Homo sapiens: one gene and its partners. The protein of the gene in region 3 purifies or fractionates together with the protein of the main gene of each other region. This does not show direct contact. Each region holds a gene or a part of one and is shown on either strand. Other genes may lie near its edges.

Evidence for each region. Proteins that work in one complex are often made in the same cells at the same time.
Region 1: the proteins of PCDHGB5 (region 3) and POM121C purify together in Homo sapiens (affinity purification with mass spectrometry, with the first as the bait; one large-scale study listed by BioGRID). This does not show direct contact.
Region 2: the proteins of PCDHGB5 (region 3) and MYOF purify together in Homo sapiens (co-immunoprecipitation; one large-scale study listed by IntAct). This does not show direct contact.
Region 4: the proteins of PCDHGB5 (region 3) and DHRS7 purify together in Homo sapiens (co-immunoprecipitation; 2 studies listed by BioGRID and IntAct, with this or other methods). This does not show direct contact.

What each region holds. Positions count from the first base shown.
Region 1 is NC_000007.14:75,423,800-75,427,299, reverse strand, and holds part of POM121C (nuclear envelope pore membrane protein POM 121C), read left to right. Parts: intron 1-846; coding exon 847-938; intron 939-1,591; coding exon 1,592-1,665; intron 1,666-2,104; coding exon 2,105-2,226; intron 2,227-2,671; coding exon 2,672-2,774; intron 2,775-3,074; coding exon 3,075-3,251; intron 3,252-3,500. UniProt on the Homo sapiens protein: Essential component of the nuclear pore complex (NPC). The repeat-containing domain may be involved in anchoring components of the pore complex to the pore membrane. When overexpressed in cells induces the formation of cytoplasmic annulate lamellae (AL).
Region 2 is NC_000010.11:93,346,335-93,349,834, forward strand, and holds part of MYOF (myoferlin), read right to left. Parts: coding exon 3,474-3,500; intron 1,449-3,473; coding exon 1,283-1,448; intron 1-1,282. UniProt on the Homo sapiens protein: Calcium/phospholipid-binding protein that plays a role in the plasmalemma repair mechanism of endothelial cells that permits rapid resealing of membranes disrupted by mechanical stress. Involved in endocytic recycling.
Region 3 is NC_000005.10:141,396,723-141,400,746, reverse strand, and holds the start of PCDHGB5 (protocadherin gamma-B5 isoform 1 precursor), read right to left. Parts: upstream 2,801-4,024; 5' UTR 2,620-2,800; coding exon 223-2,619; coding exon of another isoform or gene 163-222; intron 1-162. UniProt on the Homo sapiens protein: Potential calcium-dependent cell-adhesion protein. May be involved in the establishment and maintenance of specific neuronal connections in the brain.
Region 4 is NC_000014.9:60,158,899-60,162,398, forward strand, and holds part of DHRS7 (dehydrogenase/reductase SDR family member 7 isoform 1 precursor), read right to left. Parts: intron 1-3,500. UniProt on the Homo sapiens protein: NADPH-dependent oxidoreductase which catalyzes the reduction of a variety of compounds bearing carbonyl groups including steroids, retinoids and xenobiotics.

The DNA of each region.
Region 1 (3,500 bases), on a different chromosome or scaffold from region 3:
CCACGCCCAGCTAATTTTTTGTATTTTTTTGTATTTTTAGTAGAGATGGGATTTCACTGTGTTAGCCAAGATGGTCTCCATCTCCTGACCTCGTGATCCACCCCCCTTGGCCTCCCAAAGTGCTGGGATTACAGGCGTGAGCCACCACGCCTGGCCATGACAGCGTATTTTTAAAATGAAGTTACTAAATGAAAAATCGAAAATTTAATGGAAGCAAGACTAAATTAGTTTACTGGGTTGTCTTCTTTAATTTACTTGTATCCTTTCCGTAGACAGTCTGGCACAGGTTTGAATGTGTCCTGGCTCTTCATTACTGAGGCTAATATATGCAAAAGTGTGTCCATCCCTTCTACCTTTATTCACATTCCATTACTTTTATAGACTTTTCTTTTTTTGCTTTCATAATTAATACTGGCAGTTGACTTTCTTTTCAGGGGTCTTTCTTCACAAACAAATTTTTTTCATTTTCATTTTCTATTTTTTTTTTTTTTTTTTTTTTTTTGAGACAGGGTCTCACTCTGTCACCCAGGCTGGAGTGCAGTGGGGCAATCTCAGCTCACTGCAGCCTCCTGAGTAGTTGGGACCACAGATGCAAACCACCACACCCAACTGATTTTTCAATTTTTTGTAGAGACGGGGGTCTCGCTATGTTACCCAGGCTGGTCTCAAACTCCTGGGCTCAAGCAATCCTCCCACCTTGGCCTCCCAGCATGCTGGGATTACAGGCATGACTAACCATTTAACCATAAAAAATATTTTTTTAGTCACTTAAAAAGAGACTTTGTCATGTTGAGGGTCAGATGCTAAGTTATCAGCAGGCTCAGTCATGTCCCTCTTGATTTTTAGCTGTGGAAGAGAAATGGCCCCAGTTCATCACCCTTCTCTAGCCCAGCCTCATCCCGCTCCCAGACACCGGAGAGGCCAGCAAAGAAAATAAGGTATTCGGCATTCTCCTGCAGTTTTCATTTGCTACGTGGACAGAAGGGGGTGAGGAAAGGTGGGAAACGAACCTGGCTCTTAGGCTTTGTGCTGCTGTGACTTGGAGAATCAAAGAAACTAAGTCCCTGAGAGGGACAATGCAGCACCCACCTGAACAACTATCATCCCTACAGTCTTGGATACTGACTCCAGTGGCCTCTGGCTGTCGCCTCCCACTCCAGCATGAGGGATCGGGTGCAAGCACAGAGGCCATGCAGAGTGGAGAGCAGAGAGAGTCAAGTCAGCGGGCAGTCGCCTTCAGGTTCTTGACTCGAGCTGATCCCCTAGGTGCTTGCAGTTGGCTGGAATGCCACTCCCTCAGGGATCACATCTGTGTCTAGAACTCCCAGGGACTTGGTAGGTTGTAAGTAAGGTTTGAAGATTATTGTTTTGTGCTTGTTTTAAGACAAAAACTGTCTTCATGGCCTCTGTGAACAGCCTCCCTTCATTCTGTTGGAATTTCCTGTTGACTTTTTTTATCCTGGCATACTGAGATCTTAAATGATGGTTGTTTTAGATGTTGGCCACTTGGTAGTTAGGAGGGTGTGAGAAATTATTTAATACTTCAGCCAAGAAGTCTTTCTAGACTAAATTGTTCCTTTTTTCCCAACAGAGAAGAAGAGCTGTGTCATCATTCCAGTTCTTCAACTCCATTGGCAGCAGACAAGGAGTCCCAGGGAGAAAAGGGTAGGTTGCTGAGCCAGGAGGAGGGGCTGCTGTTGGTGGTGGAGGTATTTGTGGAGGATGTAGAGATTAATACCTATTGAAAAAAGGTCTTGAGCATTGCTATGTCTAAGGCATGTTAGATACAAAGAGAGAGATTTCCTCTCCTTCAGAAGTTTATAGTCTGATGAGGGAGAAAGGCTACAGATGGGGGCTAACGATTGGATAGAGGTAAGCTCAGTTTGAGTCACCTGTGGGTGATCCCAGTAATTACTGCACAGTAAGCGGTTTGTGTGCGCGCCTTAATCTTACAAACACCATCCAAGCAACCAAACCATAGAAGATTGAATCTTTTCAGAGATACCATCATTGAAAACTCAGTGTGAAATGCGAAGTGGGTAGACACAACCATCCATTTCTGGAAGAGGGAAGGAAGCAAACGAGTCTTGATTTCTTTCTTTAGCTGCAGATACAACCCCAAGGAAGAAACAAAACTCGAATTCTCAGTCTACACCTGGCAGCTCTGGGCAGCGTAAGCGGAAAGTTCAGCTGCTGCCTTCTCGGCGAGGGGAACAGCTGACCTTGGTATGGTCTTGTCCATCTACTCCTGCCCTCCCCGGCTTAGCTCTCCTAAGTCTTAGGAACGCTAAGGACAAGTTTCTTCTGTTTTTTTTTCTAACTTATTTTTGTTTTTGTTTTTTGAGACAACATCCCTCTGTCACCCAGGCTGGAGTTCAGTGGCTCGATTTTGGCTAACCGTAACCTCTGCCTCCTGAGTTCAAGCAATTCTCCTGCCTCAGCCTCCCAAGTAGCTGGGATTACAGGCGCTTGCTACCACGCCTGACTAATTTTTTGTATTTTTAGTAGAGATGGGGTTTCACCATGTTGGCCAGGCCAGCCTCAAACTCCTGACCTCAAGTGATCCAGCTGGCTTGGCCTCCCAGAGTGCTGAGATTACCGGCGTTAGCCACCACGCCCAGCCTTCCCGTTTTTTCTGATTGGCCTGACTTCTTCTTTTTCTCTTTGGTAGCCTCCACCTCCCCAGCTTGGCTATTCGATCACTGCCGAGGACCTAGACTTAGAGAAGAAGGCTTCATTACAGTGGTTCAACCAGGCCTTGGAGGACAAGAGTGGTAAGGAGCACAGATCGTTGCACTCTCGAGAGGTTTCAGGTGTCTGTTTTCTTTGGTTTTATTTTGGTGTTTGGAAAAATGGGTTTCTCTGGGAAAATCCGAAGTAGAGTTCCATGTTTTCTTGTGGTCTTTCTCACCTGAGATATCCGTGTTGGTCTTCACGGGAACTGGACAGCAGGGACTACTGCAATTTAGGGCAGACATTCCTCCATGAGCTGTGCTGAGAGCCTGCTCTCCGACAGGCATGTGGAAAGAAGTCCCAGACAAGCCAGGACTGCTTCACCTTTCTTTCTTTCTTAGATGCTGCCTCGAACTCTGTCACTGAGACCCCACCTACCACTCAGCCTTCATTTACCTTTACCCTGCCTGCTGCTGCAACTGCCTCCCCACCCACCTCCCTCCTGGCCCCAAGCACCAACCCACTGTTAGAGAGCTTGAAGAAGATGCAGACTCCCCCGAGCCTGCCACCCTGCCCAGGTGAGCTGGAGTGGGGCCGTGGATCCAGCCTTCTGAGCAGCATCCCCGGCTTGGGTTGGAATAAGGGCGTCGTGCCTGTCAGTCGCTGGAGATTGCTCTGCAGGCCGAACGCACCCTGGCTCAGCACACCGGAGCGGGCCTACGTTTAACAGCGCCGGAGCCCACATCAGGAAGTGTTAGAGAAGGGGTGCTGCGACGCTCAGGATCTGAAGCCTGGCTTAGCTGCCCTGAGCCTCGCCTTCCTCATTT
Region 2 (3,500 bases), on a different chromosome or scaffold from region 3:
GTTAGTGACACAGCTGCTTAAATAGAAGACATCTGCTTCAGTCTTGAAGCCACCAAGGATCAGCCGAATGAGGCTGTTCCAGCCCTCCCACGGTGTCTAATTTATGAGGCCAGGGGCCCTGGGATCTCTTGCACTGATGCAATGTAGCCCCCAGCCCCTAACACAGTCCCTAGCACATGGTAAGCTAAAAGCAAGTAACTATTGAATGGGTAATTGCAAAATGCTGTATCACTAGCTATTATTTATTATGGAAATCTAAAGTAAGTATTATGCCCTGCTCTATCATTTACATATTAATTATATGTGATAATGAGGTAGGCCAACAGGTGGAAAGCAATCTGAAATAAAATCTCCTCCTCTCTCAGTGTTCATGGGGTCAGGGAGCTTCCTGTTTTCCCCATCAAGATATTTATCACACTGGACTGCAACTGCACACTTCCTCGTTTGCCTTCCCTGCTGGACTTTTGCTTTGTGAGAGGGGAACATGCCTTTCTTGGTCCCCACTGTCCCCAGATATCTAGAACAGCACGTGGCAGTCAGTGAGTGCTTCCTAACCATTCAGTGAAAGGCAGAGGAAATGACTTCATCCCCATCACTGATGTGGGAACAGCTCTCCCTGCTTTGCAAGCTGCTTGTTGAAAGGTGAATAGGGAACATTCATGAGCACTTAACACTTCCTCAAAAGAAGTCTTACATTCACCCAGGAGCAGGACGCTTCAGAGAGGAATCCCTCGAGCATGCCACCCACCCCTAAAACAAGGCCGAGATTCCAGCCCAGCTCTGCCACTTACGAATGATAGAACCTTAGGAAAGTGCCATAACCCACCGCAACTCACGCAGTTTGCTCATCCGTAAAATGTAGACAATGAATCCAGGACTTACCTTGAGTAGGTTTGTAAAGAGTAAATCAGAGCCATGCATGAAAAGTCCCCAGACGGCCGGGCGCGGTGGCTCACGCCTGTAATCCCAGCACTTTGGGAGGCCGAGGCGGGTGGATCATGAGGTCAGGAGATCGAGACCATCCTGGCTAACAAGGTGAAACCCCGTCTCTACTAAAAATACAAAAAATTAGCCGGGCGCGGTGGCGGGCGCCTGTAGTCCCAGCTACTCGGGAGGCTGAGGCAGGAGAATGGCGTGAACCCGGGAAGCGGAGCTTGCAGTGAGCCGAGATTGCGCCACTGCAGTCCGCAGTCCGGCCTGGGCGACAGAGCGAGACTCCGTCTCAAAAAAAAAAAAAAAAAAAAGAAAAGCCCCCAGACTTATGCACAGCCTTGCATGTTACCTTTGAGCTGTGGGACGATGTCCTCTTTCCCTGCATAAGGGTCACAGCGAAAGCGGTCCAGGCGCTCGATGGTGCACTGGCCGACGACAGGCTTCCGCCCAAACTGCCTGTGGTCGATGACCTTGATCACCAGTGGGGGCATGTACAATTCCTCCTTGGGCAAGAACTGGGGGTCACAAAGGTAGGTTTCATTTCTCAAGACCAGACGAGGGCAGCTTTGAGAAAAATTCCCCAGATGGACCAGTCCAGATTCTCTCTGCCACACAGCCCAGAGGACTCGCAATAGTTCAGTTACTCATGTGCCAGGCAAGGAGCTCCGTGCTTAAGAGCGTGAGCTGTCAGCCAGACTGCCTGGGTCAAATCCTGGCACTGCCACCATGAACTACCTGGCTAACCCTTCCATGCCCCCATTATTTCATGAGTAATAGTAACATTGTTGAATTACTCTATGTGAAGAGTACTTAGAATAGTACCTGACCCATGCTGTGTCCTGTAAGTGTGGAATCACTGACCCATGCTCTTTACTCTCAGTCACTGCCCTATACTCTTCCCTGTGCTCTGCTTCCTGGGAGGGGACATGCACAAGGCTAACTAGCCCAGGGCTTTGGTCATCTACTAGCCAAGTTCTGAGCAGACTTTAGAAATGGTCAAGACAAAACTGAACTTCTAAGGGAAATAACTGTGGCTGAGAGTCTCTTTGCCCTGGAAATTCAGTGTAAAAATGGATTGCTACTTTCTCCTCAACTCCCCCTGGCTCCCTCTCATGGAATTTGGTGGCTTTGGTGACAATGCCTGATTGGGGAATCATGAGCTGACCTAGGGGCCCATTTGGTATGTGGTTCAGGTGAATTTCTATCTCTGGCTTGACACAGGAATAGAAACTGGGGTCACCTGAGTGGTTTTTCTCATCTCTGCTGACCAAGGCTAGATTCCAGACTAGAACTTGGAAGGTGAGGGAGGTGTGGGGAGTAGACAAGGATAGGTGGAGTGGCCCAGGGACAACCACTTTGGGACCCTGGCTGGCAGCATCCCGGTGGCTCGCCGTCTGTCGCATGATAGGGAGGGGAGCATGGGCATTGGGGTTGTAAGGACCTATGTGCAAACTCTGGCCACTCACTTGCTAGCGACATCCCCTTGTGTAAATCTGTTACCTCTTGCTTTTCCCCAAGGTGGGCATAAGAGAGGTGAAAATGTTCACCCCGCAGGATTAAAGACGAGGTGTACCAAGTAAGAATGCACCAAGCCCTACACTGCAGCTGTCACTAGTTAGGACATAGTCACTGTGGTATAGAAGGTGTGGCCTAACACTATGACACTGGATAAATCATTTCCCCTCTTTAGGCCTCAGTTTCCTCCTCTGTAATGTAAAATAAGAGGTTAAAGCACGTGACCCTAGAGTTCAAGAGCACTGTATTGGAGACATCAAGGTCAGGAAAATGACTGGGGTGGGGAAAGGAAGGTTCTAGGTCTTCCAACACTTCAAGGTAAGAAACTGTCTTTATGTCACCTATTTATATAATAGAGTAAAAAAGAAAGATTTTTTTTTTAAAGTTAAGAAATTAACTGCTTTAAAAATGGAAAGACTGGGTGGCCTCTTCTCACCCCAGGTATTATGGGGTCTGTGATGGAGAGCTGTGAACTGGATCTGATGCTCTCACATCTTTAACAACCAGAGGGTAGCCTCAATGGACCAAAGAAGGTGCCATCCCAGGGGCACCTGGAGGTGGGGCACAGTTATGGGCTGCCAAGGTCATGGCCCTATCACCCCATATACCTTCCCCCACAGCTGCCCCTTCCCCAGACAGCCAGTCCTTATCCAGAAGGTTCTGGTCCATGCACAGTTGTAGGGGGTATATCTGGTCCATGCATGACTGGGGGTTAATATTCTGCCTTCATGGGGTTGACCAACAGCTTGTAATAGATAGCTGAATAGATGGAAAGTTTACTGGAGAAATAAGTAAGTATTGCTCACAGATATTTCTGTGCCACTGGAGTTATTTTGAAGCTTTAAGAAATCATCACTACAGTGGGAGAATTTAAGGGGAAAAAGTCACTGACAAGCTGAATATAAGGCAGGGTTTTTCTATTTGTCAGGTTTTGGAAATAAACTCTGTGTTTGTGTGTGTGTGTGTGAGGCACATACTTTCATATTTCAACGCGCATGGGTGATCACAGAGAATCGATACTGTACCACTTTCATGAAGAGAACAGAACTTGG
Region 3 (4,024 bases):
TAAGAGCAAACTCTCACTACTTTGTAAATCTATAAGGCTACTTCTTTTATGCGACATAAAAACTCACAATTTACTGCTCCTCTTAAAGAATGGTAGGACAGCTTTCTGAGCAGCTCTGACTTCCCTAAGACAACTCATTGGACTTGAAAATGTACGATAGTTTCATGTAAATACAGAAAATTGGGTGGGTAATGAAAAAGAATAGACATAAATGAAACTCACCAACTCAGGATGGGAAGTCGACTCGCTGGAATTACAAAGTGGAAATAAGGCCCCAGATGAATCACCACAAAGTATGTCTTGTCCTGAACTCAATTGCTCACTACATTTTAGGAAATTAAACTCCGTCTTTCCTGTATGTGCAACACATAGGTTGTAGGAATAAGGCAAAGTCCCCTGACTGTAGTTGGGGGGAACCACAGGTCCAGACTTGACACAGAGACCAGGTTGGAAGCAGCTCCAGGCGGCAGGGCTGGAGGAGCGTCGCAGGCGCAAGGCAACGGCCAGAATCACGGCCAGGAGGAAGAGCACTGAGATCAAGGCCAAGGCCACCACTAGGTAAAACTGCAGCTCAGCCTGGGGGTCAGAGGGTACAGGGCGGTCAGTGATATCCGGCAGCACCTCCTGCAAGCTGTCAGCAAAGACCAAGTGCAGCGTGGCGGTGGCGGAGAGTGGCGGCTGTCCACCATCACGCACAGCAACCAGCAGGCGCTGGCGGGCCGCGTCCCTGTCGCCCAAGGCACGCGCTGTGCGCACCTCTCCTGTGCGCAGCCCCAGGCTGAAGAGCCCGGGCTCGCTAGCCTGCAGCACGTGGTAGGACAGCCAGGCGTTGTGTCCTGAGTCTGCGTCCACGGCCACTACCTTGGTCACCAGGTAGCCGGGCTCTGCAGCGCGCGGCACCATATCGAAGAGCGCAGAGCCGTCGGGACCCAGCGCGGGGTACAGCACCCGCGGTGCGTTGTCGTTTCGGTCGCCCACCAACACGCGCAGGCTCACGTTTGCGCTGAGCGCAGGCGAGCCCTGGTCGCGGGCCTGTAGTGTGAGTTCGAAGGTGCGCAGCTGCTCGTAGTCAAAGGCGCGCTGCGCGAACACCACCCCACTTTGCGCGCTCATGGACACGTAAGAGGCCAGTGCCAGAGGCTCTAGGTCGCTGGCCATGATAGAGTAGGAGACTTGGCCGTTCAACCCCAAGTCCAGGTCCGAGGCGCAGACTTGCGCGATGGAGGCCCCAGGAGGGTTGTTTTCGGGTACACTGACTAAGTAGGACGCCTGGTGGAAAACCGGAGCGTTATCGTTGACGTCTCTGATATGTAGGATGACGCTTATGCTGGAGGAGAGGGGCGGCTTGCCCCTGTCTGTGGCTGTGATGGTGACATTGTACTCCGGGGTTTGCTCTCGGTCTAGGGTTCCATCTGTTACCAACTTATACGAATTTTTGGATGAAGAGATAATCTTAAAAGGGACTTCGCCTTGTAATTGACAATTAACCTCCCCATTTTCCCCAGAATCTTGGTCATGTATTTTGATCAAAGCAATTAGTGTTCCAGGCACCGCGTTTTCCAGAATCATTTCAAGTAGAGAATGGAATGTAACTTCTGGGCTATTGTCATTTTCATCTTGAATATTAATTTCAACTGTACATTGTGCAACCAGTCCACCACCATCCCTCCCTTCTACAACCATTGAATATTCCTTGGTCTCTTCAAAATCCAGTTTCTTTTGAGTGGTAATTTCTCCGCTCTTTGAATTCAGACTAAAGATTTGCCCGGTTCTGTAGAAGGAATAAGTAATTTCTGAGTTGATGCCCTCGTCTTGGTCAGTGGCTGACACTTGCAACACAGTGGTGCCTGGTGGCACGTTTTCCCGAAGGCTGACTCTGTACACGTCTCGGTTGAATACCGGGGGATTATCATTGGCGTCGGTTACCTGGATCCGGAGCTCAGTGGTGCCGCTTAGGGGTGGATGTCCACCGTCCAAGGCAGTCAGGACTAAACGATGGTAACTCTGTTGTTCCCGGTCTAAGGTTTTCTCCAGTGCCAGTTCCGGGTATTTACTACCATCCTGTTTCTCCTTAATTATTAATGAGAAACTTGGGTTAAGAGAGAGTTTATACTTCTGCAGAGAGTTTAAGCCAATATCTGCATCTTCTGCTACTTCTAGTATAAATCTTGTGCCAGGCTGTGCAGACTCACTTATTTGCAGCTCAAAGGAATTTTGCGTGAATTTTGGCGTGTGGTCATTAATGTCCTCGATCTCCACATTCACGTGATAAAAGTTCAGTGGATTTTCAGCAACAGCCTCAAATTCCAGAGCACAAGCTGGCTTCTTCCCGCATATCTCCTCCCTGTCTAGCCTGCTGCTCACAAGCAACTCCCCGCTCTCTGCGCTCACGGTGAAGTAAGGCTTCTCCGAACTGACGCGCAGTTTTCGAGTCGGTAACTCCTGGACGCTGAACCCCAGGTCCGTGGCGAGGTTCCCCACTACGGAGCCCTTGGGCATTTCCTCGGGAATCCTGTAGCGGATCTGCTCACAGAGCGCCGGGCAGAACAAAGACAGCAGGAAGAGAAAGAGCACTGGCAGCCTCTCAGCCCGGCCCAGCTCCCCGGCGCCGCTCCCCATCCCTCTTGCTCTCCTCAGCTTGCTCACCAGCCTGGAGACGCCAGGTTACAAATAACCTCTGTATTGTAGATTTTTGGATCTCCGAACGGGCTTTAGTTCCAGTTCCAGTTTAGGAAACGATTCTTTTTCCGAGGAGGAAGCGGTGTAAAGGCCGGCGCTGGGGAGTCTGAGCTGGGGCTGCCCTGGAAAGCGCGCTGCGGCTGCGCGAGGAGATCTGGAGCGCCAAGCTCTGCACTTTGGCCAACAGCGGCGCCCAGAGTCAGCACTAGGAAACTACAGCCTCTGCGGCTTCAAGTTAACCAGTGCAGTAATTGTTTTTGTGTGCCTAACTTAACAAGCCAAGTTTTTACGTCCATATACTTAATAAAAAATTATAACAACTTCTTTAAGGTATCTTTCTCTGTTTTCCAAATTGTTAGAAATATCACGTTGGGTTTTTATACAAACCTGCATACATTGGTCCATTCTTTCACCATTCTGCAAACATACCTTGAACTCTTAGCTAGAACTAAGTATTGCCCTTGTCACTGGCAATATAATAATTAATATGATACAGTTCTTGCTCTCAGAGCCTTCATACTATACTGATTTCAAAAATTCATTTTTTATTAGCTATGGAAACAATTTTATCATTCTTCTGTTCATTTCTATGATTTCCAACTCCCCAATATTTCTAGTGTTTTATATTACACATATTAGGGAAATCTATACTATTTAAAACTATTTTGTAAAGTTGTGGCAATTTTATACCAATCCCCAAACATCTCCTCTTCCTGACTATATTAACATTCTTTATAAAAATAATTTTTCTTTACTCTTCTACTTCAGGAAATATTCATTCAAGTATACTGCCCATATGATGTAGCTAAGAAATGATATACCCTACTACGTTGCTCTTCTTCATATCTCAAAATACTTCTCTTATGTCATATCTTTTACAGTACATAAATTCATTCTTAAGAGTTATTGGGGAAATGCTTATCTATTCTGCAATACAAGGTACAAAGGGATATTCTAGTGGATTGCATTATTATCCTATCTGAAATGACTTTGGAATTGGATAAATGAAGCTCATAAGTTCATTTACATAAATTTGTGGACATTGGTCAACCTTCTTTAGTCCATTTGTCAGATTAATAAAAACAACTAGCCAACATTTTTAGGGAGAGTAAGGATTTTCTTTCCTACCAGGGCAACTTTCATCCGAGTTTTTAAAATTGCAAAGTGCCAATAATATGTTGTCCTCTCAAATGTGCATCCAAATGGTACACAAACTATGAAGTTAACTCCCACTCCACTGAATATGCACCATACAGTAGAACACTACACAATCCTTAGGAAATGTCCTTTTCATTAATAACAAACATTTATTGGGTCATCTACTTCTACCTTACAACAATCAATT
Region 4 (3,500 bases), on a different chromosome or scaffold from region 3:
TATCAACCAGTAGCAGTGGGCAGTAATCCTGCCTTGTGGTTTGACAAAGAAGAAATCAAACTTCTGGTGTCGGTGGGTCCAAGTGTCCAGCCTGAGGCATCCTCCCCATCCCTTCCTCTCCCAGCACCTCAAACATTCATCAAGGATTTTGTATCCAAGGCCCAAAAGTTTGTTACCCAAGACGACAAATATTGACATGGATGCAGTTGATGCTGAAAATCATTTGGAATTGGAGGGAAAAACACAGCTTATTAATCAAGTGTTGGAACCCCAACATACACTTCAAGATCTCCCTGTCAGAGGAGATGCGGTTACGGAAGAAAATCTCAAGCTAAAATCAGAAAACCAAGTTTCTTAGACAATACACAGAAAATTTCATGTCAGCTTCTAGTGTTTTTCAAACAACTGACACAAAAAGCAAAAGAAAATACAGAATTGAAGCCCTTCTGTTTTATGGAATTGCTGCTGACCTTTCTTTATATGTTGGACAGATTTCAAAAGTGATAGTACCTTTGTTTGTGGTTTCATTGAATATTTATGAAGCTAATGTCAGATGTAGGCAACATTCATAGCATAACAGGAAACTTCCATAAGTTTGTGTATTATGTTAGTCTATGAGAATGTGCAAATGTATTGGAAACTTAATTTAGAATAGCACATATTTATGAAACTTAAGATGAATGTTTTATCAAATTTGCTCTGATTTGTGGGTTTAGCCCTGTCTTTTATTATAGGCTTAGTAAGATATACAAGAAAATAACCATCATGCTGTGAAAAAGTGACCCCAATCAGGTACTGACTGCACAGATTCATGTACCCTATCCATCTTCTTGGGCCCCTTCTCCACTGGCTTCTTCCTTCCTATCTCCCCTCCCCCAGGGAAAAACTGGTTTCATATTTGTAAAAGCAATTTTAATACTTAATCATCTCTGAGAGTAACCTGAACTTTAATTGTCAAAACTTAACCAAATGAAGACATTTTCTCAGCTAGAGCTTCTCATTTGTGATATTTAATACTAAGATAGAATTGCTGGTTTCTCTTTAATCAATTGAAAACAAAAAGAGACTATAAAAATGAAGATTTTTCATTGAAACTGAATTGTCAATCTGGGAAGATAATTTTTTGTTGTCAAAAACTTCTTTTTGGCCAGGTACAGTGGCTCACGCCTGTAATCCCAGCACTTTGGGAGGCCGAGGCAGGAGGATCACCTGAGATCAGGAGTTCAAGCCCAGCCTGGCCAACATGGCGAAACCCCATCTCTACTAAAAATACAAAAATTAGCTGGGCGTGGTGGTGGGTGCCTGTAATCCCAGCTACTTGGGAGGCTGAGGCAGGGAGAATTGCTTGAACCTCTAGGAGGTGGGGTTTGCAGTGAGCCTGCACTCCAGCCTGGGCAACAAAGTGAGACTCTATCTCAAAAAACAAAAAACAAAAAAAAAACTTCTTTTTTTTTTTTTTTTTTACAAAATTACCTACTTTGTATCTGAAAAGATATAAATTATGGTCGTGTGTGTTTAAAATAGAAAAGCTTAAGGGAAAATAGAAATAGGATGGAAAAGTACTTGGGAAAATACTAGTAACCAACTCCAAATATTTTCACTCCAGATTTTTGTTATCTCTGGCACAGAGTAGATCTTTTGGGAAATATATGAGAGTAGATTAAGCTCGACTAACCTGTTTTTTGGCGGGGGGACGGGGGGAGGGGACAAGGCCTGGCTCTGTCACCCAAGCTGGAGTGCAGTGGCATGATCTTGGCTCCCTGCAACCTCCACGGCTCAGGCTCAAGCCAACCTCCCACCTCAGCCTCCCAAGTAGCTGGGACTACAGGCGTGTACCATCATGCCCGGCTAATTTTTTTGTGTGTATTTTTTTGTAGATATGAGGTTTTGCCATGTTGCCTAGGCTGGTCTCGAACTTGTGAGCTCTAGCGATTTGCCCACCTCAGCCTCCCAAAGTGCTGGGATTACAGGCGTGAGCTACCGCATCTGGCCAACTTTGACTAATCTTATGTACCACATCTGGAAGAGAACAGTTACAAAGAGTTTGGTCTCAAGGTATATTTCTACTCAGCAGATTAACTTTTGCAAAATTCCTTAAGAATGTATTAGTATCAGAACTGTGAAAAATGGGAGTTTCAGATGTACACTTATTGATAATCTTGCTCAGTTTTATCCTGCTTGTTCTCCCAGAATTTTTTGTAAACTCAACTCCTCTGTTTACAGAGTTTTAGTCACTTTTAACAATTTTTTAAAATTCAGTTTGTAGACTCCATTTGTTAAGGGAATCAATATCAGAAGTAATACTAAAATGTTATAATAGGAAAAGGGATCCACTAATATAGCTTATGGTTATTAGAGCTGGGCTACCTTTAATCATGGAATAATCTTATGTATAGGTGTAAGAATGACTCACTATATGAATACATACTAATCATATTACAAACATTTTGCATCCCTTTTGTGACCTAGACAGACATTTAAATTGTGTTGCAATTCTGCTTTCTTGTTTTACAAAAAGCTGTTTCAGGAAGAAAAGAAAAGAAATGAAACCTGTCTTCTAAATGACAATCCCTCACAGCTGTTAGGGAAGACAGCCATTATGTCTTCCCTAAGTCCTTTCATCTCTTACCTTCTCTAAGGCTAAATAAACCTATCCAATTTCTGCCACCTTCCCTCACATGACATGGTATCAGGTTTCCTCACTCTTCTGCTCACACCCACCTGCACCAATTCTAGTTGGTTAATGTTCCTCTTTATTAAAGGGAGCTGGCTAGGGCAGGACACAGGATTCGGTAGGGTCTGGACAGTGCAGAGCAGGATGAGATGTCAAAAATCACTTCCCTTGTCCCCCAGAAGGTAGGGTCTATGAGGGCCTGGACTGTGGCTGATTCAGTCACTGCAGTGTCCCCAGTGCCCCAGCACAGAGGCCGGCACATACAAGCAGCTAGTCAGGAGACATCTGTTGTTTGCAGTTGTTGCTTCAGACACTGAGGTCTACAAATGCAACCCAAGGTTGCCTGATCTTTTCTGGCAGCCACTTCACAGTTGACTCCTATTGAGGTTACTGTTAACAAAAACCTGAGTTTTGCTCACATGTGCTGCTGTTGAAATTTTTCCTCCTCTAGACTTGTGCCATGGATTTTTCTGGACCATTTTAATGTCTAAAATTAGTCACCCTTAAATTTCACCATATGTGGCTGGGCTTGGCAGTTCACATCTGTTATCCTAGCACTTTGAGAGGCCAAGGTGGAAGGATCACTTGAGGCCAGGAGTTCAAGACCAGCCTGGAACATAGTGAGAGCCTGTTTCTACAAAAAGTTTAAAAATATCCAGGTGTGGTGGTTTGCACCTGTAGTCCTAGCTACTGGGGAGGCTGAGGTGGGAGGATTGCCTGAGCCCAGGAGTTCGAGGCTGCAGTGAGCTATGATCATGCCACTGCACTCCAGGCTGGGTGACAAAGCAAGACCTTGTCTCTCTATTAAAAAAAAAAAAAAATCACC